7 linked regions of the Homo sapiens genome follow. The protein of the gene in region 1 purifies or fractionates together with the protein of each later gene. This does not show direct contact. Each region holds a gene or a part of one and is shown in the gene's direction. Other genes may lie near its edges. The genes, in order: LCTL, NUS1, SUSD5, SLC25A46, USP22, OCLN and SFXN5.

What was found.
Region 2: the proteins of LCTL (region 1) and NUS1 purify together in Homo sapiens (affinity purification with mass spectrometry; one large-scale study listed by BioGRID and IntAct). This does not show direct contact.
Region 3: the proteins of LCTL (region 1) and SUSD5 purify together in Homo sapiens (affinity purification with mass spectrometry; one large-scale study listed by BioGRID and IntAct). This does not show direct contact.
Region 4: the proteins of LCTL (region 1) and SLC25A46 purify together in Homo sapiens (affinity purification with mass spectrometry; one large-scale study listed by BioGRID and IntAct). This does not show direct contact.
Region 5: the proteins of LCTL (region 1) and USP22 purify together in Homo sapiens (affinity purification with mass spectrometry; one large-scale study listed by BioGRID and IntAct). This does not show direct contact.
Region 6: the proteins of LCTL (region 1) and OCLN purify together in Homo sapiens (affinity purification with mass spectrometry; one large-scale study listed by BioGRID and IntAct). This does not show direct contact.
Region 7: the proteins of LCTL (region 1) and SFXN5 purify together in Homo sapiens (affinity purification with mass spectrometry; one large-scale study listed by BioGRID and IntAct). This does not show direct contact.

Annotation. Positions count from the first base shown.
Region 1 is NC_000015.10:66,563,199-66,567,205, reverse strand, and holds the start of LCTL (lactase-like protein isoform 1 precursor), read left to right. Parts: upstream 1-1,207; 5' UTR 1,208-1,349; intron 1,350-1,818; 5' UTR 1,819-1,840; coding exon 1,841-1,958; intron 1,959-2,366; coding exon 2,367-2,530; intron 2,531-3,207; coding exon 3,208-3,295; intron 3,296-3,580; coding exon 3,581-3,690; intron 3,691-4,007. UniProt on the Homo sapiens protein: Plays a role in formation of the lens suture in the eye, which is important for normal optical properties of the lens.
Region 2 is NC_000006.12:117,692,469-117,695,968, forward strand, and holds part of NUS1 (dehydrodolichyl diphosphate synthase complex subunit NUS1), read left to right. Parts: intron 1-573; coding exon 574-699; intron 700-1,562; coding exon 1,563-1,712; intron 1,713-3,500. UniProt on the Homo sapiens protein: With DHDDS, forms the dehydrodolichyl diphosphate synthase (DDS) complex, an essential component of the dolichol monophosphate (Dol-P) biosynthetic machinery.
Region 3 is NC_000003.12:33,216,011-33,220,090, reverse strand, and holds the start of SUSD5 (sushi domain-containing protein 5 precursor), read left to right. Parts: upstream 1-1,280; 5' UTR 1,281-1,293; coding exon 1,294-1,405; intron 1,406-4,080.
Region 4 is NC_000005.10:110,742,007-110,745,506, forward strand, and holds part of SLC25A46 (mitochondrial outer membrane protein SLC25A46), read left to right. Parts: intron 1-40; coding exon 41-83; intron 84-1,723; coding exon 1,724-1,781; intron 1,782-3,500. UniProt on the Homo sapiens protein: Transmembrane protein of the mitochondrial outer membrane that controls mitochondrial organization.
Region 5 is NC_000017.11:21,033,012-21,036,511, reverse strand, and holds part of USP22 (ubiquitin carboxyl-terminal hydrolase 22), read left to right. Parts: intron 1-3,500. UniProt on the Homo sapiens protein: Deubiquitinase that plays a role in several cellular processes including transcriptional regulation, cell cycle progression or innate immunity.
Region 6 is NC_000005.10:69,548,290-69,551,789, forward strand, and holds part of OCLN (occludin), read left to right. Parts: intron 1-3,254; coding exon 3,255-3,296; intron 3,297-3,500. UniProt on the Homo sapiens protein: May play a role in the formation and regulation of the tight junction (TJ) paracellular permeability barrier.
Region 7 is NC_000002.12:72,998,713-73,002,212, reverse strand, and holds part of SFXN5 (sideroflexin-5), read left to right. Parts: intron 1-634; coding exon 635-688; intron 689-1,725; coding exon 1,726-1,782; intron 1,783-3,198; coding exon 3,199-3,264; intron 3,265-3,500. UniProt on the Homo sapiens protein: Mitochondrial amino-acid transporter. Transports citrate. Does not act as a serine transporter: not able to mediate transport of serine into mitochondria.

The DNA of each region.
Region 1 (4,007 bases):
AGAGGACTGGATGCTGATGAACCAGGCTGGCCGCCTCCCGCCTCCCAGGAACCTACAAAGGGGCAGGGGACAGATACATAAACAGCTGATGTGGAAGTGCAGGGTGGGAGGGGTAAACGCAGGCTGTAGGAAAACCCAGGAACAGCCTAGACAACATAGCAAGACCCCATCTCTACAAAAAATTAGGCATGCGTGGTGGTGGGTGCCTATAGCCCCAGCTACTTGGGGTGCTGAGGTGGATCACTTGAGCCCAGGAGGTCCAGGCTGCAGTGAGCCGTGACCATGTCACTGTTTAAAAGAAAAAGAAAGAAGGAAGGAAGGAAGGAAGGAGAAAGAGAGAGAGAGAGAAAGAAAAAGAAAGAAAAGAAAGAAGAAGAAAGAAAGAAAAGAAAGAAGAAGAAAGAAAGAAAGAAAGAAAGAAAGAAAGAAAGAAAGAAAGAAAGAAAGAAAGAAAGAAAGAAAGAAAACAAAAAAAGAAAGAAAAGAAAACAAAATCCAGAGAACCTAGTCTGGCCTGAGGGTGCATGAATCCAGAAAGGCTTCCTGGAGGAGGTGCTACCCATTGAAGACCCAAAGGAAGAGTACAAAGAAATTAACCAACAACAAAGCCATAAGGCCCAGTTGAGAGAGCTGTGGTGAGGGCTCAGCTGAAGGCAGGGAGGCTGGAAATTGAGCTATGTGAAGGAGGCCTTTCTGATGGGGAGGGCACTGCAGGGAAGGGAGCCACAGCAGATGAGGGCAAGAGGTGCTGAGACTACAGGGTGGGCTGTTCTAGCAGGTGGTGCTGGTTGAATGAATGAGTGAGGAAAGAAATGAATGAGGGATACAAAGAGAGAAGGCCAAGGTGGAAAAACCAACTCTATCTTTTATGGTGGGTTTTTTGGTTGTTTTTTTTTTGGCAGCTGGGACAAGTAGACAGAGACACATGGCAACATACACTGGTCCTGCGCCACCCCCAGCTTGGGACTCGAAGGACTGGGGTGTGCTGAAGGTGGCATGTCAAGCCCAGAAGGGTCCAGGAGGACCAGGTCTCCCCCCTCCTTGGCTGCCCTTCTGTCCCAGGATGGGGAGTTGATTGATAGCTCCCCTGCCCCCCCGCCCCCCACCCAGCGCCAAGCTCCCCCAGCTGCTGACTCAGGCCCTGCCGGCCAGCTCAGCATTCCTGCCCGGCCCCCACTGAATGGAGCTATTGAAAGTTTCTGTAGCCACAGACCACACCCCCAACCAGAGCCTTCGGCTGTGCTGTGGCTCCTCTCTCAGGGGACAGCGTAGGCCCTGGGGGTCAGTTGGAGAGGGCTCTGACTACCAGCGACTGCTCTGGGGGTGTCTGCGATCAAGGACGATCCTGGGTAAGCTGGCTGGGCTGGCACCAAAGAGGGGATTCCAGAGCGAGGGGTCTCCCTCGTGTGCAGGACAGAGGCACTGGGATGGGCAACCCCGGCTTGGGGGAGGGGTCTGCGTGTCGTTGGGAGAGCCAAAGGGCCCTGTGGGTTTTCCCACCTGCCCCCTCAGACTGGAGCTTCCCTGAGGTAGACGTGGTTTCCCCCTTAGATAGAGGCCACTCAGGGGTATGGGCTGGGTCTCCCCCATCAGACAGGAGCCAAGGTAGGGAGAAGGGATAGTTTGGAGTCTTGCCCATCAGTCTCAGAGCTCCCCAGGCACGGAAACAGCATCAGACATCCAGCCTCAGCCTCTGCTGCTGGGTGCAGATCAAGCGCCTTCCTTTCCCTTCCTCTCCCCACTTGGCCTTTGCCCTAAGCCAAGACCTGGCCATCAGCCTGGCTGCAGGGGCCTGCAGAGCCAGCTGCACTTTTTCAGGTATGGGGGAGGGCCAGGCACCATGAAGCCAGTGTGGGTCGCCACCCTTCTGTGGATGCTACTGCTGGTGCCCAGGCTGGGGGCCGCCCGGAAGGGGTCCCCAGAAGAGGCCTCCTTCTACTATGGAACCTTCCCTCTTGGTACGGCCACGCCTCTGTTCGTCTGTCTGCCTGTCTGTCGTCCACCTGCCCACTTTGGCTGACTTGACAAGGAGTTTGGTGTTCTTGCTTCCTGATTGGCAGGATGAGAAACCTACCTTTGTGTGGTTGTTCTAAAAGCTCCTAACAGATATTTTTTTTTTGAAGTTACTAAAAATTACACAGATAATGTATGCTAATCAGAGCTAAAATTGTGCAAAAAATGTTTTTAATATATCTTCCCCTACCGTGCCTCATGTGCTCACACTCCTAGGAAGACAAGTCCCCAGTGGGACAGGGGCAGCGTGGTAGGGAGGGGCAGTCCCTGAGGCCTGGGAGGCACAGCCCAGAGTCCTGGCTCTGGGTGACACATGGGAGCACCTGGGACCCAGCACGGGTCTCCCCCTGCAGGCTTCTCCTGGGGCGTGGGCAGTTCTGCCTACCAGACGGAGGGCGCCTGGGACCAGGACGGGAAAGGGCCTAGCATCTGGGACGTCTTCACACACAGTGGGAAGGGGAAAGTGCTTGGGAATGAGACGGCAGATGTAGCCTGTGACGGCTACTACAAGGTCCAGGTGAGTGCGGGGTGTGAGTGTGTGTGTGTGCGCGCGCGTGCACACACATGTGAGTACATGCCTAGCTGGGAGGCAGGGAGTGACGTTTGGGGGAGCTCTGATGACAATGTCATCCCCATGCTCTGCCAAACACCCTCTACCCCAGTGCAGCCAGAGGGGGCAGGGCCAGTGGGGGTGAAGGTTTGGGAGGGGCCAGGATGTGAGGTGGATGTAGGAGGAAAGGAAAGTGGGGCCTCACCTGAGCCAGTGCCTCAGGCCAAGTGAAGGGGGAGCTGAAGGGCTGATCCCACAGCCTCAGGGCCTACAGCCACAGTGGCCTGAACCCCTGGTCCCTGCTTGTCAGTTGCACCCTGTGGAGGGAGTGGGACCCGCTCATCCTCAGCACCCACTTTCCTCTCTGGATGGCTTCTTGAGGAACTCATCACCCAGGTTTACTAGGGGCACCCTGATGGACTTCTCTCAGTGCCTCCCTGTCCTGCGTTTTCTTTGACTCTTGGCATATCCCCTGCATGAAGTGGGCAGGTGGCATCACCTCTGTTGTACAGGTGAGGAAGCAGGTTCTTCCTTGCCCACTAACAGCTACAGACAAGAGTGAGCCTCGGCCCTAGAGCCCGATGGACCCCTACCTCCCATACCCAGGGCCCAGGTGACCTGTCTCCCCACCCCTGTCTGCACAGGAGGACATCATTCTGCTGAGGGAACTGCACGTCAACCACTACCGATTCTCCCTGTCTTGGCCCCGGCTCCTGCCCACAGGCATCCGAGGTGAGCTAGGGAAGCCCCTCTTGAACCCAAGTGAGGCCCCTTCCGGCAATGTTGGCTTTGCAGGGGCACCACAGAGTCCTGGGGAGGGAGATCAGCCCATGAACGTAGTTGCTGACGGTAGCAGCTCTCACAGGTTCTGCAGGTAACTGGGCTCCCAGAATGCTGGTGGGCTGAGGGTGCCTCAGGCCTTCAAAAAGCAACAGGGCCCAGGAATGCTGCACTCCAGAAGGCCAAGGCCAAGGCCGAGGTCCTTTCTGGTAGCATCTTCTTTTATTTCACCTGCAGCCGAGCAGGTGAACAAGAAGGGAATCGAATTCTACAGTGATCTTATCGATGCCCTTCTGAGCAGCAACATCACTCCCATCGTGACCTTGCACCACTGGGATCTGCCACAGGTGAGGACCTGAGCAGGCTCACAGGCCCAAAGGGGACTCAACTAAGCAGGAGGGAGCCCAGTTTGAGGACTTGGGTTGCCAAGGTGGAGCAGAGACTAGGGTCTGGATTCTGGCGCAGGACTATAAGATGCGAGTGAGTGAAAAAATCTCTCTGACTCACTGTCTTAATCCACTTTTGCTGTTGCAATGGAATGCCTGAGTCTGGGTAACTTGTAAAGAACGGGAATGTATCTTCCCACAGTTCTGGAGGCTGGGAAGTCCAAGATCAAGACACTGGCAGGTGCAGACTCTGGTGAGGCCCCAGTCTCTGCTTCCAA
Region 2 (3,500 bases), on another chromosome or scaffold:
ATAGAGGACCATACATTGTTCTTTGTATTTTATTTCTGTGCTTTGTTTTAAATTTACTAAATTGTTTTTCTGTTCTCTTTTTACGTAATCCTTATTACTTCCTCTTATGATTTAAAAAACTAATCAAATTGAGGCAAGATTATTTAATACAAGTAGTAAATCTGCAGAAAAGGTACATTAGACTGTGAGTGAGGAACATAACAGGCTCTAGACCACTGCTGCAGTTTATAATTTCTTGGAGAAGAACCTTAAAGAGTTTAGGCCTCAGTTTCTGAATCCATAAAGATTTTAAGTAAGTGATCTCTTAAAATTCCTAAGTCTAAATTTCTGTCATATTCACATGCCACTACTTAAGTAGTTACCTCTGTTCTTTTTTTTGCTGGAAGCCAGACTCTTGTATTAACAAAGTTTTGTTGTCATGTTTTCCTTTTAGATTCTAGTTTAGGACTAGTCATTACAGCTTTGTTTGACATTCGTTTAGTTCTGGATCTAGTGTTGTTTTCATAGCAAGCATTCACTTGAAGAGGAAAAATTAACCTAGTTGTGTTTTACTTGCCTTTTTCTTTTTTAAAGGTATTTTCAAAAGAAATAATTCCAGATTGATGGATGAAATTTTAAAACAACAGCAAGAACTTCTGGGCCTAGATTGTTCAAAATACTCACCAGAATTTGCAAATAGTAATGACAAAGATGATCAAGGTAAGCATGAGTGTATAATTGAACATGTAACATATGAAGATGTGTGTTTTGTGTTTCATGGCAATTTCTGTTACTCTGTCATTTATTCATTCACGTTGCTCTGTTACTCTTTATTGTCAACATCTTTAATCATCAGATTTAGACTTTCTCGTCTTAATCTTGGTAAAAAGTGAACACATGATAAGGATTTTATTTAACCAGGCAAATTTTTTAACTGGTTCCACAGAGAATCCATAGAATGGACACATTTGTAGAGATATTGAAATGAATATATAAATAGAGGTACAACTGGTTGTTCTATGGAGTGAGGAAAGAAATTGAATCTTTGCTGGACAAGAAAGAATTTGCATGTCTATAGATAAGAATTTTGCAGTGTTATCTGAGAATCCCATCAATTGTAAGATAGCTCCTATAAAAGTAGAATTGATAAAGGTATGTATGCTATAGGCAATGCATATTCCACTCTAACAGTTTTTTCTTAGTCTTTATTTTTTCTTTTATTCTGTGTTACTGCTAACGATATCGCAATTATACAGGAAATTTTAGATGCGTGAAAATTTGTTAGCTAGCCTATAAAGTTTCTGTTTTCTAGAGGATGTAGTCACAATGTATAGTCATTCTGAACACTTTGAAAAGAAGGCAGTGTATAAATATATACATGGATGTGATTTGGGATATATGGATCCTTTCAGAGGAGAATAGCTAAGTATGTTTTGATATTGAAATTGAAGGGCTTAAAAAATTCTTGTTTACTGTAAGAACTGTATGTTTATTTTGGTTTAACCTTGTATTTCTTAAAACTGCTTTTGAAATATACCTGGAAGAGAGTGTTTTTAAAATACATTGTTTGTTTTTTCTTCCAGTTTTAAATTGCCATTTGGCAGTGAAGGTGCTGTCTCCGGAAGATGGAAAAGCAGATATTGTAAGAGCTGCTCAGGACTTTTGCCAGTTAGTAGCCCAGAAGCAAAAGAGACCCACAGATTTGGATGTAGATACGTTAGCCAGTTTACTTAGTAAGTTTTTTTATATATATATACATATATATGTATATGTATGTGTGTGTGTTTAGTTTTGTCACACGAGGATACAGTATGAAAGAAAATATTTTTGTTTCTTTCACACCATAAAGCCTGATTCTTTTGTTGTTAATACCTGTTAAATTTCTGAAATTTAAAGACCTATGTAAAAATGGTTTCGAGACAATGAAATTTGTAGCCACTCACTCGCATGAGGATTTAATGGTAAAGGAGATGACCTTTGAGGATCTTTTTTGTAGTGATGAATATTCTTGAAAATAGGACTTCTGCTTGTTAGCCTTCCTCTCCCTCTTCCCCTTTCTTTTTAGTTTGAACTTTCCCTTAACTTTGAACTTAATCTTTTTATGAGGTGATCCCAGGAATATAATCTTACTGTTACCATGATTCCTTTTTAATTATTCTTTCTATTATGCTATACCAAATATACAACTGTATTTGTCATGTTATACCAAATATAACTTTTTTTCTTCAGCTGTTTAAATAAGCCTTTGGTTTGCATATTCTGTCTAGAGAATTCCCTCTAGGACCTTTTTGCCATAATGTCATGGTTCTTCTTGCTTACTAGCATTAGCCTTGATCCTTTTGAAGAAAGACAATCTCTCTAGTAAATTCATGTTCATTAATAGCTTCTATAGGCATACAGTTTTAGACATTCATTCATTTTTTATTACTTAGACTATCCATTTACTTATTAATCGTGCATTTTCAGGCTGGATGGGGTGGCTCACACTTGTAATCCCAGCACTTTGGGAGGCTGAGGCAGGTGGATCGCTTGAGCGCAGGAGTTTGAGACCAACCTGCGCAACATAGCAAAACCCCATCTCTACAAAAAATAAAAAATTAGCCAGGCATGGTGGCTCACGCCTGTGGTCCCAGCTACTCAGAAGGCTGAAGCAGGAGTATAGTTTGAGTTCAAGAGGCAGAGGTTGCAGTGAGCCAAGATCGCATCAGTACACTCTAGCCTGGGTGACGGAGTGAGACCCTGTCTCAAAAAAAAAAAAAAAAAAAAAAAAAAAAGAAAAAGAAATGCATTTTCTATCTTAACTTATTTACTTAACTCTCCATTCTTTGTTTCTTCCACTTTGACATGTGTCCGTCACAGAGCAAAGTCCATCTCCCACTTCTTGGTTTCGCTAACTTCCTACTTTTGTTGACTACTTGCTTCTTACCCTACCCTGTCATTGCCTAATTATATTCAGGCTCAGTGAGTAGTAGACCATTATGGGGCCTCTCTGCTCAGATGTTACTGGGATGTTGACTGTTTCCTGCACCCTATGAGACCCTAATAAGAGAGTAATTTCATAAGGACATTCTAAAAGTTGATGGAGATCCAAAGATGACCTTCAGGTAGTCCATGGGAAAGCGCTAATGTTTATTAAGCCCAGTTGTTGCCTTCAGGCATTGTAAGCTTAGGATAAATGAAAATGTACACAATTCTTAACTTATTAATTTGACAGAGGCAAGCATTCTGAATACCATCACCATCAAAAGTTCCTTTGTGACTGCATTTAGTCCCCACTCCTGCCCCCTAAACCAGCAACCACTGGTCTGGTTTCTGACTATACTTTCGCTTTTTCTATAAATTTTATATAAAAGGAGTCATACAATATATAGTCTTTTATGTCTTGCTTTGTTTACTTACCATATTTTTGAGGTTCATCTATGTAAAATGCATTAGTTATTCATTGTTTTTTATTGGTGAGTAGTATTTTCTAGATATACCACGTTTTGCTTATGCATTCATCGGTTAATGCACATGTGGTT
Region 3 (4,080 bases), on another chromosome or scaffold:
GATGTGGATTCAAATCCAAGTTCTTACTGTGAAAAGAAAGTAAATTATTTCAATGTCTGTGTCCTGGTTCATTAAATGAGGATAATCATCTGCCCCTTTAGCACCAATCACTTTTTCAATTGTAAGTATATTTTATTTAAGTGTGAACATTTTTAGGACCGATTGCAGCCACATTCAGGGTCTAGCACAGGGACAGGCATGTATGGGCACTCAATAGATGTTTGTTGACCCATACATCAATATAAAAGGGATTTGCAAATTGTAGAGCACCGCGCATGCCTCAGTTATAACAATACTGATCTTTATTACTCTACCTATGAAGAAAGCAAGTTCTTCTTTCACTGAACAGGGCTGGTGGTAGGGAGACAGGCTAGGGGCGAGCAGGAAGAAGGAATCAAGTCAAACAGGGACCCCTGCAGCAGAATCCATTGGGACACTTTAACTTAGAGTGTAGATTCCCAGACCAGACCGACAGAGTCCGAATCTCAGACCCTTTCGAGGTCAAAAAGCCCTGATTTGGGAGGTGGGTGATAATGGTGACAATCTCACTAGCCCTCTTACTGCTCCTTGAGAAATACTAGCGTACCAGGAAAAGTGGTGAAGGAAGCGTTCCTGAAGATATCCTTTCCTCAGTGACTCTCAAACTTCGCTTTTAGGAAAGAGGAATTTCGCTATTCCATGCGTTTCACACCTTAGAGTGAGGGTGGTAGGTAACTTAGATTTTCCTCTCTTCATTAAAAAAAAAAAAAAAAAAGAGTGTTGGTGGGGAGGGGGAGGAGGCCAGTTGAAAAGTAGAGGCCGAGGACAGAGTTAGACACTCGTTGTCTAACGGCCCTGCCGGAGGGGCTCCGCCTGTCAGACTGCGTCACCCTCTCGCCAAGGGTCCCCCAGACGGGCGGGGGCTCCTTGCGGCCGGCTAGCTACTCTCCCCGCCTCCCTGCGCCCTCGCCCTCCGCCCCGCTGTACCCGCAGAGCGCGCGGCCCAGCGCAGCCCCTTTTGGCACCGAGGTTTCCAGGTGCCCAGCGCGAAGGCGGAGCCGGGTTACAGCCGCCTCCTCGGCGCCACAGAGAAGACCCCCGGGAGTTCGGCGGCCCAGGCGCTCCGGCTCTGCGTCCCGAGCCTCCCCCGGCTCTCCGCGCTCCTCCCTCTCGGCGCGCCCGGCGCGAAGCCTGCGATTCGTGAGCCGAGCGCAGAGCGCAGAGCCGAGTGGCGCACGCTGGGCAGTGGCCTGGGCAACCCCAAACGCAGCCAGAGCCCTCACCCGAGTCCGCTGGCCCGCGCACTCCCGGACCATGACTGCCGAGGGACCCAGCCCGCCTGCCCGTTGGCACAGACGCCTCCCCGGGCTCTGGGCGGCGGCGCTGCTCCTGCTCGGTCTGCCGCGCCTTTCGGTGCGGGCGGATGGTGAGTGTGCGGGAGGCGGCGGGGCGGGGGGTGGAGCGTGGGGTCCGGGCAGGGAGGGCGTAGCTCGCCGGGGCTGCTCCCTCTGACCGGCCCGGCAAGCGGCAAGCGCAAGCCTGAGAGGAACGAACGAGCCGCGGTCCTGCGACCCAGCATCCCTCTCCTGGCCCACCAAGTCTCCGCGTGCCCGTGCGCCCAAACGCCCGCCTGGTGCCTGGACCCTCCCTTAGCGCCGAGCGCGTAGGTCCCGCAGTCCCGCCGCTGGCTTTCCTAAGGTCTCCAAGAAAGCTCGAATGAAATCACCTCTAAGGTGCCCTAGAACCTCCTCTGCTAAGGGGTGATTTTCCGCCGTCCCTCAGTTTCTCAACGTCTATTAATGTGCCCCTGAGGACACCGCCGATGGTTAGAAAACTCCCTCGGATATTTTGGCTTGGTCCGGGAAGACGTGAAAGATGAGTGGGAATCAGCGAGGCTAAGAGAGAGAGAATGGCCTGGCCAGAGGGAAAAGCACGTGCAAAGGCTGTCTCTGAGTGACAGGAAAAACGGGACAAATGATAAAGCAAAGTACCTGGAGGCGAGGGGACGTCTTGAGACATGAGGTAGAGAAGTGGGCAAGGGCCAGATTATGGCAGGTTCTCTGAGAATTGATCCACTTCTTGTTCGTTTGCTTGGTTTTTCAGCCTGAATTTAGCTTGTAATACTTGCCCTAAAATGAGCAGGATTGGAGCTCTGTATCCATTCCCTTTTGAAAAGCTAATTCAGCTGTGTTTTCATATTAGAACAAAATCCCGCTGACTTGGTACAGGAGCATCTGAAGGAAGCAAGCTTAAAGCCAGCAGTTCTCACACCCATGAGGTAGTTCTAGCTTAGGACGAATTAGACTGATAAAAGAGAAAAGCCCTCCGTCAATTTAGGATGCGTTGTATATTTTAAAATGTGATTCTTGTTTAGCCAACGATATTGAGTGAAACTAGAAGACATGGGGAAAAAAAAAAAAAGCATGGTTGTCAGGAAAAGGGGAAAGCCAAGGAAAAAACCGTCTAGGTCGTAGAGTTTTTAGTGCTCTCTGTTTTAAGTGCAGGCTTGAAAAGCTCTCCGTTCCTAATTAAGGATGAATGTCGTATTTCTCCATATCCTCAGAGAGAGTGTTAGAGACAAAACATTTTTAACTTTGAAGGCTGTTAGTAACCACTGCTAATTTTTTTAATTGACATGTATTTCACATAAAATTTGTCATTTTAAAATATACAGTTAAGTGGGTTTTAGTATATTCATTAGGTTGTGAAAACCATGGTTTGCATGCATCTAATTCCAGAACATTTCCATCACTCCTCAAAAGAATCCCATACCTATTAGCAGTTTACTGATAATTCTTCACTGTAGTGTTTTTTGACTGACATTGAGCCATGAAAATTAAGCTGATTTTAAAGAATGCAAGTAGAATAAATTGGAGCTAATATTAATCTTTGAACAAGATATATTGTGCCAACTTTAATTCCTTTTAAATAAATATTTTTGCAATCCATAAGGTTTTAGAGTTTCATCCCATTATAACTGTTTAAGTGGAATGCCATGTGGATAAGGATCAATATTTTGTGCCTGTCTAGCTTGATACGGGTCATAGAAAATTAAAGGCAGAAATGTCACTGGTCAAAGAGAAAGTAAGGACAACACCAGAGCACATGATTCTTTGTTACTGCTTGCCAGAAATGATTCCTTTTCTTCATTCTCCTTCCTTTTCTTTCCCCACTTCCTCAGTGGACAATTATAGGTATACTTCCTTATAGTAAACTCAATTTTATGAGCTCCAACTTTTATACTAGAACCAGGAAGAGTTATAAGCTATATTATCAAAGGATTCTTTTTGGTACTAAATTCTTAGCTGCCACCAGTTCCTACATTTAGTTATTTGTGTGCTATGGTGACGGGAGGAAGAAGAAGAAATGCTCAGCTTAAGTATGATGAATTACAGATGTTTGAAGAGATAGATTTGGAGAGAAACTATTTCTAAAAACGTGTCATCTGTATAAGGATGGTCTTTGAAATCATGTGCGTGGGCAGAATCCTAAGGAAAAATTTTACAGCAAGAAGACCTAGAACTGAGCCTGGAGTGAGGGAAGCTGGTTTGGGATTATTGAATCTATGTTTATGAAACATATTAGCCTGTAATTTTCATTTTTTATAATATCTTTGCCAAGTGTTGATATCAAACGTATGATGGTTCCTAAACCAAATTGTAAAGTTGCTCCTTCTTTAACTCTGAAAGGGTTTCTGCGGGTGAGGGCTTTTGTTTGTTTGTTTTGGTGTGAGATCATCTGTGTCTGAAGGTTTTCTTGTAGGAAGATTTTAAATAATGAATTTAATTTGTTTGGTAGATAAAGAAGTATTCAGATTTTAAAATTAATTTTGTGTCAATGTTGCTAAGTTTTATTTTTTAAAGTTTTTCCCCCACTTCATTTAGATTGTCTAATGTGGCATATACAATGTAATAATCTCTAATTATCATTTCAGGGTCCACGGGATCTGTAGTGATGTTCCCTTTCATTCTTGATATTGGTACTTTGTGTTTTCTCTTTTTTTGTCTTGATCAGTCTTAGTAGGGGTTTATCCGTTTTATTATTCATTTGAAAAAAGCAACTTTTGGCTTTATTTTCTTGATTGTGTGTCTGCTTTCCGTT
Region 4 (3,500 bases), on another chromosome or scaffold:
AGTAATCTTATTTTTTTATTTCTATTTTTTTTTACTTTAGAACAGCTGAATAGATTTGCTGGATTTGGTATTGGACTTGCAAGGTAATGTTTTATCTAAAGACGTTTACAGCTTTTATTTATTGAATTTAGAGTTTTTCTTTAATTTACAATATTAAATGATTATTATTGCTTCCTTTAGGTTGTTTCTTTGAAGCAGCAGCTTAAATTTTGAATAATATTTTGCAGAAAAAAAATGACCATTATTTAAAATATATAATTTGATAGTTTTTCCAGTAAGGATAGACTAGTCATCCAATTTTATAAACACAAAGTAATTTTGTAATGAGTATTGTAACTGTTTTCATGGGTCTATCCAAAAAATAAAATGAAGTGTAATCTTATCTCTCTCCCATCAAAATAATAATTTAGAATGGGGTTCATGAAGATCAAATGGCTCTGCTGATAAGAACTTTTTTCATAGGACATTTTCTGAAAGAAAAATTACATGGCATTTAATGATGCCATGTAACTGACGTGTCATTTCCCACATCAAACATACAGTGATCTAGTTTCATTTTATACCGTAGATATTAATATTGTGTATTATATATTGTTTCCCTTACTTACCTGTTTGCAGATCTGGTTTTCATTCTTTTCATGGGTCTATCCAAAGAATAAAATGAAATGTAATCTGTCTGTCTCCCATCAAAAAAGTAATTGTGCATGGAGGCTTCTTTCTAAACACTCTAATGCTTACAAGATATTTAGCAACATAGCATCTAGATTTTGTTCATAATCAGCGTTTGGTGATAGCATTACTTTTTTTTATATCTAACGATCATTTTAAGAAAATCCTTTAGTCTTGATTATTGTGATCCTTAGTGAATACCATTTTCAAAAATATTGGAATTGCACAAAGCTTACATTTCATGCCATAATGATCATTATTTTAAACATTTTAACGAAGAAAAACACCTTATTTGCATAATTAAACCCGAGGGTGTTAATGTCAATATAAATAAAATCTGTGTTTTCCATTCTGCTGGAGTTGTTTTTTGCTTCAATATTTATACTTAAAGCTTTGATTCATTTGATAGACTATTATTACATATAAATATGTGTGCACATGTATGTATATGTCACTCTGAGACCTGAAACCCACAGCTGTAATTGTTTTGTGGGGCACATTCTCAAAATAAATATTTGATACATAAATATTAGTCAATTAACATGGTCATTAAGAATCTTATAATTTAAGATTTATACTTAAATTTATACTTAAACCTTATAATTTAAGTGCACCAAAACCAAACATTTTTAGAATGGGGTTCATGAAGATCAAATGACTCTGCTGATAGGAATTCTGTTATTAGGACATTTTCTGAAAGAAATAATTTGCAGCATTAAATGCCATTTAATTGATGTGCCATTTCCCACATTAAACATTCAGAGATCTAGTTTCATCTTATACTATAGACATTAATATTATGTATTATGTATTGTTTCCCTTATTTACTAGTATGCAGATCTGGTTTTCATTCTTTTCATATTGAATTTCGTTATGGGTAGAATCATTTGCAAACATTTCTAGACATTTTTAAAGATCTATTTAATTTGTTTAAGAATGGAAAACATAAAATAATGCATGATTCTTCAGGCAAGAATAATTTCAGAAAGATACCTGTTGTAAATTTAATTTATCTCTATGTAGACATACATATACATAAATTATTTTTATATAGTCTCTTTACAGAAAATGTATTGGCACATCCTTGCATTGTTCTACGCCGCCAATGTCAGGTAAATGTAATTTCTGTGATCTTTTGAAGCAATACTTCTGACCCTAATATGAAGGGCAGAACTCACATAAATGACATGAAACCAGGTAATTGTTACTTCATGTGAAATGTTCCAAACTTTTTGGTCTCAAAACCTCTTTAAAGTCTTAAAAAAATATTGAGGATCCTAAATAACTTTGGTTTATGTTGGTCATATCTATTGATAGTTACCATTTCAGAAATTAAAATTGGGAAAATTTCAATGCATCTATATAATTCATTAAAATAATAACACCTGTTAGTAAGATAATATGTTTTTATGAAAGTAACTATTTTGCATTTTTGCAAATATCTTTAATATCTGACATAATAGGAGAGAGCCAGTTTCTCTCGTATGCTTCTGCAGTCAATCTGTTGCATCACGTGGTTTTTGAAAGAAGCAAGGAAGTTTAGTCTTGTACACATGTATAGTTGAAAGCAGGAGAGGAGTATATTATATTCTTTTGAGATAATTGTGGGTATTCTTTGCAATTGCACCAAAACTCACTGTGTCGCAGTTTCTTAAAGGTTATTTGCAATGTGAAATCAGAAATCATTTTAGTGAACTTTTTATACTTTGTTACATTAAAAAATCCATTTAACTATACTGCATCTTGAATAGATATTTTTACTTATGCCTGATTCCATGTAATTGTGCATAAGTTATTTGAAAAATATTGACCAATTGAGTTACATAGATCTTCCTGTTGTTAAAACATTTGATTATAAAATATCAAAAAATCATCTTCATTAAAAATACTACTGATCTCACTAGAAAAGTCTATAAGTATTGTCAGCTCTTGACGATGCATATAGATTTTCCAAAATTCTGAGTTTTAGTTGAAAATTCAAACTTATCATTGACAGTAAATACTGTTATTTATTTTTGTTTTAATCAACAATCTCACTTTGTTTATTTTTTAAAATATGTCTGTCCTGAAAGTGAATAGGTATAGTCCGTCAATGAGTTTTTCTAAGTAAAAATGATGTTCCGTGAAAAAAGTGGCTAGTTTAGCTTGCAGTTCTATCATACAAGTGCTTTCCTCATGACAGCAATCTTACTTCCTTATGTAACACACAGGATATTAATTAGAAAGAGGATGTGTACTCAAAGGTCAAGGATTCATAAAATTAACATTTTGTTACTTCATTGTCAAGGATATTACTATATGAAGGTTGCTTTTTTCTCTCTATGGGTAAATGAGGTGAAAAATTACTGTAAGTACGAAAATACAGTTTGATGGTGCTGCCTCAATTTGTGCTAATGAGCTGGGAGTTTTACCTACCATTGCTTTTGTACCATTAGTGAAAATGTCAAGACAGTGAAAAAAGGAAATTATATCTTAGTAATCACTAGGAAAATAATTTTGAACTTGTCAAGCCCCTGAAAGGGTAATGGGGCCCTCAGGAGTCAGTGGACCCCACTTGCAAACTCTGTTATAACCCACTTTTTTTTTTTGTTTGTTTGAGACGGAGTCTCGCTCTGTTGCCCAAACTGGAGTGCAGTGGCATGATCTCGGCTCACTGCAAACTCCGCCTCCTGGGTTCACGCCATTCTCCTGCCTCAGCCTCCCGAGTAGCTGGGACTACAGGAGCCCGCCACCGTGCCCAGCTAATTTTTTGTATTTTTAGTAGAGACGGGGTTTCATCGTGTTAGCCAGGATGGTCTCGATCTCCTGACCTCATGATCCGCCCGCCTCAG
Region 5 (3,500 bases), on another chromosome or scaffold:
AGTGCTCAGTTACAGTTCCTTTTGCTTTTAGTCTTACACTCCCTCCTCATTTCCACATTACTTAGGTACTTCCCTCCCCACCCCTCTTGGCGGAGTTGTGTCCTATATGTGTAATACAATTGGTTTCTTCTGCCTCAGCCTGCATTCCATAGGGCCTCATCAGTTATTTTTAAAATCGCATATATTAAGGTTTGCTCTTTGTGCTTTAAAGCTCAGTGGATTTTGACAGAGGCATCCACAACTACAGTACTGTACAGAACAGTTGCACTGCCCCAAGAAATCCCTGTGCTTCACCTTCTAACTCTCCACAACCACTGGTCTCGTCTCCATCTCGGAGGTTTTTCCCTTTCCAGAATGTCATATCATTGGGTTCATACAGTCTGTAGCCTTTTCATACTGGCTTCTTTTGTCTAGCAATATCCATTGTATCCATTGAGTGGATTGAAAGTTCATTCCTTTTTTTTTTTTTTTTTTTTTTTTTGAGACGGAGTCTTGCTCTGTCGCCCAGGCTGGAGTGCAGTGGTGCGATCTCGGCTCACTGCAAGCTCCGCCTCCTGGGTTCACGCCATTCTCTTGCCTCAGCCTCCCGAGTAACTGGGACTACAGGCGCCTGCCACCACGCCCAGCTAATTTTTTTGTATTTTTAGTAGAGACTGGGTTTCACTGTGTTAGCCAGGATGGTCTCGATCTCCTGACCTTGTGATCTGTCTGCCTCAGCCTCCCGAAGTGCTGGGATTACAGGCGTGAGCCACCGCGCCCAGCCGAAAGTTCATTCCTTTTTCTTTTAATGGTATTTATCATGTGGCTATACTGGTAAGTCGTTTAAGTTTCTTAATCTGTAGGTTCTCTCTTCATTCCTTTCTTACAGTTTTTTGCTTCTACTTTATCTGTTGAAAAACTTGGGCCTTGTGACTTGTTGACTTCCCTATAGTCTGGATTTTGCTGTTTGCATACTCAACAGTGGAAGTTCAAAGTGTTGTGGTTTGTTTTTTTTTTGTCCTATTTCCTACAAATTGGTAGCAGGGTCTCCTATTAAGGCTTTTCCTGTATTTAGCACACAGACTTGATCACCTTGGTATTAAGCGGATGGAAGCTTAGGTAGGAAGTAAACTCAGTTTTCAAGGATTAAAATGACCCGCCTAATGGATATGTGAGTCTTTTTCTTGCCTCTTGTTTTATGTTGGCCAGTACCTGTAGCAGAGGGTGCTGAAGAGTAGAAATTGAGATAGAATTGAGTGTGAGTTTTATTATTATATGTTAGCAGCTCTGGTAAGAAACTCAGAGAATTAAGTGAGAATGGTAGATTAAAATGAGGCTTTAGGATAATGTGATTGCTCCCCATACATGTGTAATTGACAGTTGTGTGAGGTGAGCTCAATTTAAAGGAAGACTAGCCTAAGCTGGTCAGTACCAGGAGGATTTTGCCCCAGTTTGCTTCCGTCCAAGTGTGTGTCCCTCAGCACAGCATCTCTTGGGCTTCCTCATTTCCTGTTTATGATAATAGAGTACTCACCCCCATCCTTGAGGGATACATTCCAAGACCTCCGGTAGTTGTCTGAAACCACAGATAATACTGAACCCCATTTGTATTACGTGCAAACTTTTTTCCTTCATAATTTCATGGATAGATTTGTTCTTACTGTAGATCTTAGCAACCTTGTTATTTGATATTGTTTTCTTATTAAGAATTTTTACCTTTTCACGTAAAAGAAGCCCTTTATGGCTTTTCTTTGGCATATCCAAATTGCAGCATCAGTACTCTTGAGCTTTGGGGCCATATTAAGCCAAATAAAAGTGGCTTGTGTTCACTTTTATCCGTGATCACATCCGCAACAGTTGATGTGATCAGCAAGACAGCTACCAAGTGACTTAACGGGCAGGTGGCCTAGATGGCACGGAGAAGCTGGACAAAGGGATGGTCATGGGACAGAGCGGGATGTCACTCAGTTTCATCATGTTTCTCAGAACGGCGGGCAGTTTAAAGCTTATGAATTGTTTATTTCTGGCATTTCCATGTTACTATTTTCAGACTGAGGTTGACTGTGGGTAACTGAAACCACAGCAAGCGGAACTGTAGGTAAGGGAGGACTGCTGTGATATTTTATATTTCATACGTAATTTCCTTCTGGTTTTGGTAGTTGGGATACACTTTTTAGGTAGGCCTGGCAAGTAAGTCTCCTGACCTGTCCAAGGACATCACCGGCAACTGCTGGGTCCCAGCCTTGAAATGAGGTCAGTCTGAGGTCTTGCCTTTGCTGAATGAAATTACCCCTTCTGTAAATTGAAAGGTCTGGAGTCGCTGTACCCTTAGATTGATTTTGGCTCCGAGATTGAGGGGCCTGAGTCTGGAAGCTGAGGTTTTTGAGGTTGGGGAACTTAATTTGAGAAGATTATCTAATTTTGGCAAAGTCTTTAGCTTTTTAGTGCCGTATTTTTTTTTTCATATAAAGGATAGAATATTTAGGCCGGGCACGGTGGCTCATGCCTGTAATCCCAGCACTTTGGGAGGCTGAGGTGGGTGGATCACTTGAGGTCAGTAGTTCAAGACCATCCTGGCCAACATGGTGAAACCTCATCTGTACTAAAATACAAAAAGTTAGCCGAGCATGGTGGCACGCGCCCGTAGTCCCAGATACTCGGGAGGCTGAGGCAGGGGAATCACTTGAACCCGGGAGGCGGAGGTTGCAGTTAGCGGAGATTACGCCACTGCACTCCAGCCTGGTGACAGAGCAAGACTCCTTCTCAAAAAAAAAAAAAATTATACCTGTCCCTTCACTTATGTCAGTGTTTGAGTCCTTGAAAAAGTCACTGAAGAGAATGCACAAGAATTAAACTTACCTTCCTAAGATGCTCAGGTTTTAGACCAGTAGGAAGTCATGGGTAATGTGTGAAAAGTGCACTAGCTCTTAAGGTGGTGTGTCATGTTTGCACACTTTTAAAAGCTGGACTCAAAATTCAGTGTACTGTTGAGTCATCCCATAGGGTAAGTCTGGTTGACTACAAGGGCTCTGCCCCTCTTGCTCCTCCGCATCCTTCTTGGGGTGGGAGGTAGTGTGAGTGGGGAGATAAGAGGACAGGATATTCAGAGGAATATTCTTAATATCGGGACCAAATTAATGAATTTGGCAGGGTGTTTCTGTACTGCATAAGATCAACAACAATTAAATAATTGATCCTCTTCTAATTCCTGTCACATACAAATCCTAGTTATGTTTCAGGATTTGCTTGCAGTCTACTGAATCTACTTGAATTAATTTATAGGAGAAAAGGATTTAATTCAGAAATCATTGCAAGGGCTATGGAGTAGTAGATTCTAGGTTGAATTTCTAGGAAAACCCGCCAGCCTGGGGAATCCTGCCTCTGCAGGAGCCACCACACCAGAAAGTGGTGTGCTGGGCTGCTTAAACAGTGCCACCCCTCCACGGTCCATGTCAGCCTGTGGATGCCCCCACTGGGCCTCTCTCCTTAGCTTACTCACCAACCGCATCGTCTGCAAATGT
Region 6 (3,500 bases), on another chromosome or scaffold:
GTTAATAATTACAAAGCACTATTCTGTTTTTTTTTTTTTTTTGAGGTGGAGTCTCGTTCTGTTGCCCAGGCTGGAGTGCAGTGGCGTGATCTCAGCTCACTGCAAGCTCTGCCTCCCGGGTTCACGCCATTCTCCTGACTCAGCCTCCCAAGTAGCTGGGATTACAGGTGCCTGCCACCACGCCCGGCTAATTTTTTGTATTTTTTTTTTTTAGTAGAGACGGGGTTTCACCATGTTAGCCAGGATGGTCTCGATCTCCTGACCTCGTGATCTGCCCGTCTTAGCCTCCCAAAGTGCTGGGATTACAGGCGTGAGCCACCGCGCCCAGCCCCTACAAAGCACTATTCTATGTACATCTATCCTTTCCTATTTAAAATAAAATAGCCAGGCTGGGCATGGTGGCTCATGGCTATAATCCCCACACTTTGGGAGGCCAAGGCAAGTGGATCACCTGAGGTCAGGAGTTAGAGAATAGCGTGCCTAACATGGTGAAACCCCATCTCTACTAAAAATACAAAAAATAGCAGGGCATGGTGGCAGACACCTGTAATCCCAGCTACTCGGGGAGGCTGAGACAGGAGAATTGCTTGAACCTGGGATGGGGGAGGTTGCAGTGAGCCAAGATTGCGCCATTGCACTCCAGCCTGGGCGACAGAGTGAGACTCCATCTCAAAAATTAATAATAATAATAATAAAATAGCCTTATTATCTTTCCTATTTATAAAGCCATTCATTCTTTCTGTAGAAAAGAACTTAAGCGGCCGGGCACGGTGGCTAATGCCTGTAATCCCAGCACTTTGGGAGGCCGAGGTGGGCGGATCATGAGGTCAGGAGATCGAGACCATCCTGGCTAACACAGTGAAACCCCGTCTCTACTAAAAAAAAAAAAAAAATACAAAAAATTAGCCAGGTATGGTGGCGGGTACTTGTAGTCTCAGCTACTTGGGAGGCTGAGGCAGGAGAATGGTGTGAACCCAGGAGGCGGAGCTTGCAGTGAGCCAAGATCGCGCCACTGCACTCCAGCCTGAGTGACAGAGTGAGACTCCATCTCAAAAAAAAAAAAAAAAAAAAAAAGAACTTAAGTAACACAGAACTGTATACAGAAAAAGAAATCATCTTAAATCCTACCATCAAGAAATCCTTATCACCAAAATATTAGTTAAAACAATCTCTCCAAGCAGGAGTCACCAAGGCACATACACCTTTCTTTAAGGAAACATCATCTTCCATGTTTCACTTATTTTCTTCCTGTCTTTTAAATCAACAGTTTATGGGTTTTTTTTTTCCCTCCCTTGATCACCTGGCTGAGATAGAATTTGTCCATGTAAAGTTACTGGATTTTTTTTTCAATCCATCCTTTTCATACTGTATTTTGTATACATACTGAAATTAATGTAGTTACACCACCTTTTAGAGGGAGATTAATCTCTTCTTGTTTATTTGTTCCTTTATTGATCAGTCAATCACTTACGTAAGTATGGACTTTACAGATACCTGTTTTATACTGTGAATTATAATCCAAGGCTGCTTTATTTTGTAGCTCTAATTGTTCTCGCTTTGACGGTTGGGAACTTTCAGTTGCTTCCCGTGTCCCTTTGACATACTCTTATTGTGGGGTTTTATCTTTAAAAAAAAAACAAACAAAAAAACTTCCTTGCACTGCTTATTTCTGGCTTTTCTTAACAGCAAGTTTTTTTTTTTATATCAATAATAAAGACCTACTTACTTTTAAGTTTTTTATGTGTAAAATTAGGTAAACAACTTTCAAATTTATGGTTGTATCATAATTTAAGAGTCATTTTCTATGGATAGACATTTAAGTATGTCTCCCCCTACTCCAGTAGTACCAGTATATACTGGTGAACCTCTCTGTTTTTGCACTCTTGTCTACTTATCTAATTTTTTTTTTTTTTTTTTTTTGAGACGGAGTCTTGCTCTGTCGCCCAGGCTGGAGTGCAGTGGCGCTATCTTGGCTCACTGCAACCTTCGCCTCCTAGGTTCAAGTGATTCTCCCGCCTCAGCCTCCCGAGTAGCTGGGATTACAGGCATGTGGCACCACACCTGACTAATTTTTGTATTTTTAGTAGAGACGGGGTTTTGCCATGTTGGTCAGGCTAGCCTCGAACTCCTGACCTCAGGTGATCTGCCTGCCTTGGCCTCCCAAAGTGCTGGAATTACGTGTGTGAGCCACAGTGCCCAGCCTGCTTATCTAACTAAAACTAATTCCAGAATGTGAAATTGCTGAGAGTCAGAGGGTACGTACCTTTGCAAAGTTGCAAAATTGCCCTCCAGAGAGACTGCACCAACTGTGTCTCCCTCTTGATACAATACAGGACTCATTTGATGCACATCTCATTAAATATTCTGCCATTTTTCAGTTGAGGTGATCTACTTTTTAGTTTTGACGTATTCACATCTTTATATAGTTAGATTTATGTATTTCTTTTATGGTTTCTATAGGGTGTTATAGATCTTTCTTAATTTAGTGAACATTTATTGATCACTTATTTTTCTTTGATGATGTGGAAATGCTGGAGCTAGAGACATAAAATCTTGTCCCCACCCTAAAAGAGCTTATATTTTAAGAAAAAAAACCTGACATCTAAACAATTTAGACAGTATGATTAATGCTGTATTTGCATCATGTGTAGAAAGCACTATAACTAACTGCTCATAGAAGAAATAAAGTCTTTGGAGGCTTCACAGTGAGGGAATCGTTAAGAGCTTTCCAGACAGAAGGGTGCGGGGAGGTGCATGATTACAGCCATAAGGAAAACATGATTGAAATCCTGAAGCATTTAACATGTCTCAGTTTTTAAAGGAGTTGCTGATGATGGGTACTGAGACTGGAAAGGTAGGAAACTGGATGAGGGGAGAAGTTAATGGGAAGCTCAGACCAGTTGTGTAGTGGGATATTACCTGATCAGCGAGCGCTCTGTGTTATAAAAGATCTTCCTGGTGTCAATGTAGCATGGGGACTGGCATGAGGAGAGATGAGAAGTAGCAGAACAGATAGTTACCTGCCTATGTGAGTGAAATGTGAAAGATACAGTATCATAAATGTCTCTTCACTGAATTCCTTCAGACCTTCCTGCTGATCATGAGTTTTAAGAGCTTTACGACTTCATTCTTTTAATTGCTTATATTTTTGTCATAAGCTGTCATTTTTAGCTCCAAAGTATAACATCAGGAATGTTACTTTTAAAAGAGAAAATGCCCCAGTAAACATATTCCTTTGTGTCTGTCGTTAATAGGCTGCTGCTGATGAATACAATAGACTGAAGCAAGTGAAGGGAGTAAGTATCCGAGATTGTTCTTTTAGGAAGAACTTTCTTTCTTCTTCTTTTTATTTTAATTCCCATACCTACTCATCTGGAGGAAGAGCTTTTCTATTACATGTTTTTCATTTTTTATTTTATATATTTTTTAAAAGTTGAAGTATACATACAGAAAAGTGTATAAATCAAAGTGTATAACATGGTGAATTTTCACAATGTGAC
Region 7 (3,500 bases), on another chromosome or scaffold:
AAATATTAGAAATCTATGTTTCATTCAGTTGCTTAAACCTGGTATAGGTTTTTGCTTCATGGAAATTCACAGATAACAGATACAAATTCCCCCAACTTGTATTTACAAAGCACTTAAGGCCTTTGAAATGATTTTTGTTTAATCCTCGCAAAAATCCTACGGGAAGGCTAGGGTGAGCAGTCAGGTAACCTGAGTGGAAACGAAGGTATTCCTTTTGTTTGCTTGTTTTTATTGCCCCCCTAATTGTGGAAATAATACATGTCTGTTGTTTAAAAGAATACAGAAATATTTAAGATTGTGCAAAAGTAATCTGCAACCCAACCTCCAGAGACATCCACACTACAGGTTTTTTCATGCTTGAAGATAATGTGTGTATGCATGTGTTTGTGTATATCGTTATATATAAAATGATTTTTCTTTAAATAAATAAGATTATGCTGTAATATAATTCTGCAACTTGGTTTTTTCCCATCACACAGCCTCTCCCTCAATGAACCTCAGTTTGTATGTACACGGCATACCACATCAGTTTGTACAGATCCAGCTCACTCATTTGTGGTAGCGTATTTTTTCTTTGCAAAAGCATAGGATGTTTCTTCTGCCTTTTTCAGCATTTCTTCTCTCTTGCTCATAGGTAGTCGGTCTTCTCTTGCCCAACCAGACACTGGCATCCACTGTCTTCTGGCAGGTAACAGTCTCGCAGCAAACAGGGCTCCTGAAGGAAGGGCCCACACAGGTGCTGGTTAAGAACTCCCTGCTGTGGTGTCTCCTGCCCCGTCCAGACCCCGTGTAGGGTCAGTCCACCCCAACACCACCCCTAGCCCAGAAGCCACTGAAGGAAAACCAGGACTTTGGCCCTGCTGAGCAGGTCTCCAGCAGCCCAGCATGTCTCAATCCACCATGTGTCACTCTAACCTTTGGACAGAGGTCATGAGGGCTGCGTGCCCCTGCCTGGAACATGCTGGCTTGTCAGTGGGGTGGCCCCCACTCTGCCCCTTGGCTGCTCATCCCAAGGCCAGTGACCCTGAGGCCCATAGCCTCATTTTGACATCAGCCTCCCCCACATCTGCTGAGGAAGCTAAATCCACCCCTAACCTGAGGTTGTGAAGTGCATCACAGACCCTGGTCCCTGCTCTTGGAGACAGTCTGGGTTGTGATGCCATGAAAACTGAGGATATCTCTGTGTTTGTGTGTGCAGAGAAAGACGGGCAGGAAGGAAAACCTGTCTGTCTTCTAGGAGAAAATGTCAGTCTTCCCTGAACTAAACTCCTGCCGGCCTCTGTGTCTGGGAACTGGAGGTGCAGGATACTGGACTGGGAGATTTTTGAAAGAATTGTAGGGCTGTCAGTCATTCTAGGCCAACTTTTGTCCAGCAGGTAATATAATAAAGATGGTGTGACAAAGGCAGTGGGGTCTGCAGGGGCAGTGAATGCCATCATTCCAAGAGAGGTGACTGTCTCAGGATCAGGTGGACTACTGGGGTGCGCAGGACCCCATTCAGGAACCGAGAGACTTCCCGAGAGGCAGGGCTTCCAGTGCTAACACCAGCACAGCCCTGGGCAAACCAGGACGGTCAGTCATGCTGACCGGCAGCATGGGCGGCACCATGTGAGCTGGAGACCGCATGCTGTGCCTTTCTGGGGATGTGTGGCCTCCTGGGGTCCAGGCCTGGCTTCCAGGGAGGTGACCACTCCTTCCCTGACTTCTCTCATCATTGCCTTTCAGTGGCTGAACCAGAGCCACAATGCCTGTGTCAACTATGCAAACCGCAATGCGACCAAGGTGAGCATCACTGCCCTCTCCCCAGTGGTGGGGTTCAGGCTAGGGAGGCCCAGTCATCCTCCCTACAGCGTGACATGCCACCATCAGTGGCTGCCTCTTGGTTAAGCATGGCCCTCCTCTAGATATCTTATTTAAAATGCCAGCCCTTCAGGTGGGTGGCCGACTCAGACATGACTCAGCTGAGGTCAGCTGCAGTTTCTGGGCCAGGAGCCCTCTGGGGAGGGGCTGTTTACATGAAGTGAAGAAGGCCCATTAAATGGGAGCAGTGCAAGGGATGAGTTCGGCTGGCTTTCAGATTCTTCTTGGGTAGCTCTTACATTTGGGTTTTGGATCATGATGGTATCAGCTACTTGGGGGCAAAATTCCCATAAAGCTTCCTCCAAAATTTCTGGAAGCTGCCTTAGCGCTCCCAGGTCCCGACTGCTGGCCACAAGCTGAAGGGCTGCTCCTGAGTGGGGAGGGTCCAGGGCTGGTAACTCCCCCCCAGAGCCCCTGCACTCCTTGGAGAGCTTGTGGTGGAGGCCCAGTCACCCTTCTGTTGTCCAGGAAGGGCTGCTGGGCCCCTGCTTTGCTGGCAAGGCCACCTCTCCCCAACTTCAATTCAAAGGCAAAGAAGGCAGGATGCATCTAAGTCCCCTTTGGGGGCCTGTCAGTTTGGGGTAGAGGAGAGTCCTAACATTTGCTCACCTTGGGGGAGAGGAGGGGAATAGGAGCTGGCCTGGGCCATAGGAATTGAGAGGCCTGATATGCTGTGGCTGCCCCCTGACATCTAAACCTCCACCCCAAGTCTCTCTCATAGGCTTCACATATGGCCATCTCTGCTTGGATGACTCCCTTTATCTTAAACCAGACACTTCTAGACCTGCAGTTGTAGCACAGGGCAAGTTCCTTAGCTTTTTCTTAATTGTCTGTGTTGGAACTTGGGGTATATTATTCTCTAGAGATATTGGGCAGCTATCATCTGTTGACATGGGAGCCCAGCTGTTCCATGGGCTGGCAAGGCCTGTGAGAGCCTTGACACTGGCATTTCCACCTAGAAAGCGCTCCAGATGCCAAATGGCCCCCTTGAAACATTTAGCCTCTAAACTGAAGACTGCTTGCCCCAGCCTTCAATGGTCCATGTTAGCCTTGCTGTTCTCCACCTCCACCCAGCACTGTCTGCCAGTGACCTTTCTAGAACAGGGCAGGAGTGAAGTGGGCCCTTCAGTATCTCCCTGGATACTGGTGATTTATATTTCTGCATTGGGAACTGAGCTGAGGGTGGCCTGATCCCTTTGAGTCCTGAGGGGCCTCTTCCTTCTACCCACTTTCCAGGCTGGTGGGCAGGATGCTTCTTGCTGGCTGGGACAGCTTACAAGGGGAAGTATGGGAGCTTTGGGCACCCAGCAGGCCTGAAATTCTGCCTCTGTTTTCCAGCCTTCACCTGCATCCAAGTTCATCCAGGGATACCTGGGAGCTGTCATCAGCGCCGTCTCCATTGCTGTGAGTACTCCCTCCCCTGCTCCTTCTTGGCTCTGCTGCTCTGGGGCCACCCCGCTCAGCATTGCAGGTGGATGCTTGTCTGAGGGCCAGGCCAGGCAAGGATTTGGGAGACAGGTTTCTGTGGGTGGAGGAGTCAGGACAGGCTTTCCAAGCCGAGAAGAGGCTCCAGTAGACAGAGCACAACCTGGTGCTCCCTGTAATGGAGAGCAGGTGGGGAGGTGAGGTTGTGCCTGGGG